Regions from separate parts of the Homo sapiens genome. Here region 2 is linked to region 1. Evidence: fine-mapped expression QTL. A gene starts in region 1. The other region holds a variant in brackets. All regions are shown on one strand. Distances are from middle to middle.

What was found. PIP is the estimated chance that this variant, and not a neighbour inherited with it, causes the effect.
Region 2: its variant is fine-mapped to the expression of CERS1 in cerebellar hemisphere (GTEx, PIP 0.98).

What each region holds. Positions count from the first base shown.
Region 1 is chr19:18,894,957-18,897,784 of GRCh38, forward strand. CERS1 (ceramide synthase 1) reads right to left here and starts at 1,202. Exons shown (of 8, transcript NM_021267.5): 1 at 868-1,202. The coding sequence starts at 1,116. GDF1 (growth differentiation factor 1) reads right to left here and starts at 1,202. Exons shown (of 8, transcript NM_001492.6): 1 at 868-1,202. RefSeq lists a silencer at 203-252.
Region 2 is chr19:18,804,615-18,807,512 of GRCh38, forward strand. No RefSeq gene overlaps it. Among named protein-coding and RNA genes, the nearest start is that of COMP, 15 kb to the left of the region's middle. RefSeq lists a silencer at 1,566-1,860. The variant C/T (reference allele first, on the strand shown) is at 1,545.

The DNA of each region.
Region 1 (2,828 bases):
ACCAGCTCCTGCCACAGCGACCCCTCCCCAGGGAAGTGAGTGGGGTCAGGCGCCAATGTCACCATCATGGTCACTCTCTCGCAGGGGCGATGGTCTCCGCAGAAACTGGGGAATTCTGCTGTCGCCTCTTGGAGGCAGCACAGTCCAACCCTGAAGCCCCGGGCCATGTCACCTCCAAGGGAGCGACCACTGGCGTGGCCAGAGCACCCAGGCCCTTGCCATCCCTGGTCGGAGGGTGGCGCTGACCCCAGATAGGCACAAGGCAGCGACCGGGCAGCTCCTGCCTCTTCCCGATTACAGCGGGCAAGCCGGCCCCGCCGCCGCACGGACCCAGCAGAAAACGGGCAGCGGACCTCGCTCCGGGCCGGGGCGCAGCCCGCATGGCAGGGAGGCGCATGGCGCAGGCCGCGGTGCGCCGAGCCCTCCCGTTCCCGGTCCTGGGCTTCTCAGTGTCTGGCTCGGCCCTGCCGGAAAGAGCGCGCGGTGGCCGGAGCCATCCACCGCGCGGGGCCCCCTGGTCCCAAACTGACCGGAAAGGGCCGTGCCTCGGTCCCCCACGTCTCAAACATCCCACCTGTCTCGGGCCCCCCATGTCCCAGACTCACCCCAGCCCGGCCACACCCCCGCATCTACCCGGTTCCCCCACGCAGCACTGTCTGAAGGGGGCGCGCGGCGGCCCGAGAGACCTTATCCTGGGGCTCCAACGTCCTGGGCCTCTCCAGCCCGAGGCCCCCACCCACGTTCCGGCGACCCCTTCATCCGCAGCAGCCAGCGCTGGAAGAAAGGAACGCGCCGGCGGCCCCAGGTCCCCGGTCCCGGCTTCCCCCAGTCCGGGGTCCCCTCGTCCCGGCCCCCGGCCACACTGACCCGAAAGAGGCGCGCAGTGGCCGCGGAGCGCAGGGCGGTCCAGCCCAGCGCGCCGAGCGCCAGCAGCAGCAGCTCGGGCGGCGCCAGGTGCGCGTGCTCAGCCAGGCCGCGACGCGCCAGCCCCCAGCCGCAGTCCGTGCAGCCCCGCGCCGCCGCCAGCGCGCTGCCCCAGCCGCGCTGCACTAGCTGCGCGTAGCTCGGCATGGGCTCGGGCCCCGTCGGCCCCGCCGCGGGCCCCGCCGCCGCCATACCGCCCGCTCGCCCGCCGTGCCCGTCGCCTGCGCCCGCCCGCGGTAGCCGACGGAGCCGCGCGCCCCGCGTCACGCGCCGCAGCTGGGCCGGGGGCGCGCGGGCGGGAGAGCGGAGGGCGGAGGGGCGGGACCGGCGCAAGCTCCGCCCCGCTGGGGGCGCGGCTGGGGGGCGGCCAGCGGGGACGCGGGGCGCCCTGGAGGCGGGCCCGCGCCCCTGCCCGTTTCCCAGCAGAGAAACCCAGGCGCGGGGGCCGGAGCTGGGGGCCCGTTGGACCTGGACCCCGAGAGACCCCGCGCACCGCCGTGTCGCGCCCCCATGCCTGCCCCGCGCGCCCCCCGCTCCCCCACCCCACCGCGCCGTGCCCGTGACGGGGGGCACGGGGGACACTAGCAGGCAGTCCCCTCGACTGGCGACCCCCGCTTCTCCCGGCCCTCCAGCACGCCACGCCGCTCCCGCTCCATCGCCCCGGCCCGCTCCGACCTCACCGTTCTTGGAGCCCTCGCTCCTTCTCAAGGACCCGAGGCCTGGCACGCCTTGGCACAGTCTTGGGACCATCCCGTGGCCCTCCCGCATTCAGGAGGCGTAGGCTCAATGAAACATTCTCATTCTTCAAAAGGACACGGCCCACGCCAGGGCGTTGGGAGGCGCACCTAGTGGAGACGCAGCTCTCTGCCCTACACCAGGAGCTTGGCAATGGGGTTCCAGCTTGGACGCGGGTACCCTGGGCACTTCCCAGGCATCTTCTTCTGCAGGTCTGCACAGCGGGCTACTGGGACAAAGGTGTGATGGGGGCTGCTGAGATTAGGGGGTTCTCTGAGGGTCACTTGCTGCTGTGACCCTGGGGAACCCGGGGGGGGGGCTCCCCAACATCAGGTTAATACATGAGTTGCAGAGAGGCTGCAGGAGTGGGTGCCAACGTGGGAGGGACTCCCAATCTGGATCGACTGTGACATCATTGGGACCACCATAAGTGACTTTCCAATGCACTGTTCATTGACAAGGCCCTGTGCCCAAAGCCACTGAAGGCCATCGAGGAAGACACTGGTCACCTCTGTTAGGACCGCCATCTCCCCAGGCACTGCTGCACCCCCCCTCCATCCTAGCCCGCAGGATGTCCCCACACCTGGCCTTCAAGGTGCAGGATGCAGGGATGAGTCCTGCAGCAGCCGCGCTGGCTCCCGAACACCTGCACCTGAACTTCAGGGGCACAGGTGAACACACCTTCCCCTTGCCCCACACCGAGTCCCCCACAACACATCCAGGTGGCCCTGCATCTGGCCACTTCTCTGCATCTGCACAGCCTTGCCCCCCGCTCCCCGCCACCACCACCACTACCACCACTACCCTCTTCCGTCTGGTATCCTGGCTTCCTCCTCACCCCACAGAGGTGAGAAGGTGGCTGCGACGCTGTTGGCCTGTTCCTCGTCTGCTTGCAGCCCTCTATGGCTCCTGTTCCACTCAGGGAAAGCCCAAGTCCTCACTGGCTGCCCTCACAGCGCCCTGTTTCCCTCCGCCTGTGGGCTTTTCTGCTGTTCTTCCAACATGCCAAGCTCTGTCCTGCCTCAGGGCCTTTGCACTAGCTGTTCCCCCCTCCTGAAATGCTGTTCCCCTAGGTACCTGCATGGCTCTTCTGCCACCTGCTCAGGCTGCCCCCGACTCTGAAGTCACACGCCCCTCATGTCTTCATGTCTGCTTGGCACTTGTCACCA
Region 2 (2,898 bases), 90 kb before region 1:
AATCCCAACACCAGGCGGAAAAAACAGGCCCTGGGGCCCCTGCCAGCCCACAGGCCTGAGACCTGCAGAGGGGCCTGATCAGAAGGCCAAAAAGCTGGGTCCCCACATCTCTCCGGGCACAAGGGGAGACTCGGCTTCCCGTCTGGAACACAGGGCATTGCTGTAGAAGCGCATCCACGTTCAAGGTCAAGTGCAGCATCTACCTGCCTGCCAAGCCCTGGCCCAGGCAGTGGGGACCCATGAGGCGAGTCAAGGTTGGCCCCGGTCTGTAGGGCTCCCAGGCCAGAGATGGGGTTTCCCCATGCTGGTCATGCTGGTCTTGAACTCCTGACCTCAAGTGATCCACCCACCTTTGCCTCCCAAGTGCTGGGATTATGGGTGTGAGCCATTGCGCCCAGCCCCTTCCTTCATATTTACATAAAATACCCTTCTGTGACCCAGGACTTGGCTTAAATGTCAACACCTCAGGAGACCTTTCCCAACCCATGGGCAAAAATACCTACACCCAGGTATTTCTTTCAGACACTTCTCACTCTTGGAAATGATCTTCTCGGCTACATTTTCATGAGGTTGGGAACGTGGTTTATCCGCAGTTTGTGCCATTGTACCTGGCATATACTAGGTGAGATTGTCTCCTTGGGGACAAAGGAGGATGCTGGCTATCACAACAAAGTTTCACAAACATATACCCTCTGAGACCCCCAGACCTCCCCCAGCAGTGCCCCAGGATTTACAACCAGAACTTTATTTATTTATTTATTTATGAGCTGGAGTCTCGCTCTGTCGCCCAGGCTGAAGTGCAGTGGTGCAATCCCGGCTCACTGCAGCCTCGACCCCCTGGGCTTGGGTGATCTTTCCACCTCAGCCTCTCAAGTAGCTGGGACCATAGGCACATATCACCCTGTCCAGCTAATTTTTATATTTTGTAGAGACAAGGTCTTGCTGTGTTGCCCAGGCTGGTCTCAAACTCCTGGGCTCAAGTGATCCAACCACCTTGGCCTCTCTAAGTGCTAGGATTACAGGTGTGAGGTACCACACCTGGCCTACAACCCAGAAATTTGCCCTCAATAAATGGCAGAGTGAGGCTGGTCACAGTGGCACACATCTGTAATCCCAGCATTTTGGGAGGCCATGGTGGGAGGATCACTTAAGACCAGAAGTTCAAGACCAGCCTGGGCAACATGGTGAAACCCCCATCTCTACTAAAATACAAAAGAAATTAGCCAGGTGTGGCGGTGTGTGCCTGTAGTACCAGCTACTCGGGAGACTGAGGCAGGAGAATTTCTTGAACCTGGGAGGCAAAGATTGCAGTGAGCTGAGATTGCACCACTGCACTCCAGCCTGGGCGACAGAGCAAGACTCCTTCTCTAAAAAAAAAAAAAAAAAAAAAAAAAAAAAAAAAATAGGGCCGGGCGCGATGGCTCACGCCTGTAATCCCAGCACTTTGGGAGGCCAAGGTGGGCAGATCACAAGGTCAGGAGATCAAGACCCTCCTGGCTAACATGGTGAAACCCCGTCTCTACTAAAAATACAAAAAAATTAGC[C/T]GGGCGTGGTGGCAGGTGCCTGTAGTCCCAGCTACTTAGGAGGCTGAGGCAGGAGAATGGCGTGAACCTGGGAGGCGGAGCTTGCAATAAGCAGAGATTGTGCCACTGCACTCCAGCCTGGGCGACAGAGCAAGACTCCATTTCAAAATAAATACATAAATACATAAATAAATAATAGGCAGGCACAGTGACTCATGCCTATAATCCCAGCACTTTGGGAGTGCCGTGGTAGGAGGATCACTTGAGACCAGGAGTTCAAGGCCAGCCTGGATAACATTATGAGACCTCACCTCTTTTTTTTTTTTTTTTTTTTGAGACAAAGTCTCCCTCTGTTGCCCAGGCTGGAATGCAATGGCGTGGTCTTGGCTCATTGCAACCTCTGCCGCCTGGGTTCAATCGATTCTCCTGCCTCAGCCTCCTGAGTAGCTGGGATTACAGGTGCGCACCATGACGCCCAGGTAACTTTTGTATTTTTAGTAGAGACGGGGTTTCACCATGTTAGTCAGGCTGGTCTCGAACTCCTGACTTCATGATCTGCCTGCCTTGGCCTCCCAAAGTGCTGGGATTACAGGCGTGAGCCACAGCACCCGGCCGAGACCTCATCTCTTAAAAAAAAATTAGGCCAGGCATGGTAGCTCATGCTTGTAATCCCAGCACTTTGGGAGGCTGAGGTGGGGCTAAGGTCAGGAGTTCGTGACCAGCCTGGCCAATATGGTGAAACCCCGTTTCGGCTGGGCGCGGTGGCTCATGCCTGTAATCCCAGCACTTGGGAAGACAAAGGTGGGTGGATCACGAGGTCAGGAGATCGAGACCATCCTGCCCAACATGATGAAACCCCGTCTCTACTAAAAATGCAAAAATTAGCTGGGTGTGGTGGCACGTTCCTGTAATCCCAGCTAATCAGGAGGATGAGGCATGAGAATTGCTTGAACCCAGCAAGCGGAGGTTGCAGTGAGCCGAGATCGCGCCACTGCACTCCAGCCTGGTGACAGAGCGAGACTCTGTCTAAAAAAAAAAAGAAAAAAAGAAAAGAAACCCCGTTTCTACTAAGAATACAAAAATTAGCTGGATATGGTAGCAGGCACCTGTAATCCCAGCTACTTGGAAGGCTGAGGTAGGAGAATTGCTTGAACTCAGGAGGCGGAGGTTGCAGTGAGCTGAGATTGCACCATTGCACTACAGCCTGGGTGACAGAGCGAGACTCCGTCTCAAAAATAAATAAATAAAATTAAAAAACAATAATAAATAAAATAAATAAATGGCAGAGTGGTTTGAGTCATGCTGGAGGCGCACAGGCAGCTATGGAGGGTCAGCAGGAGGGACTGCTATGCTGCGACTGAAGGAGAGATGAGAA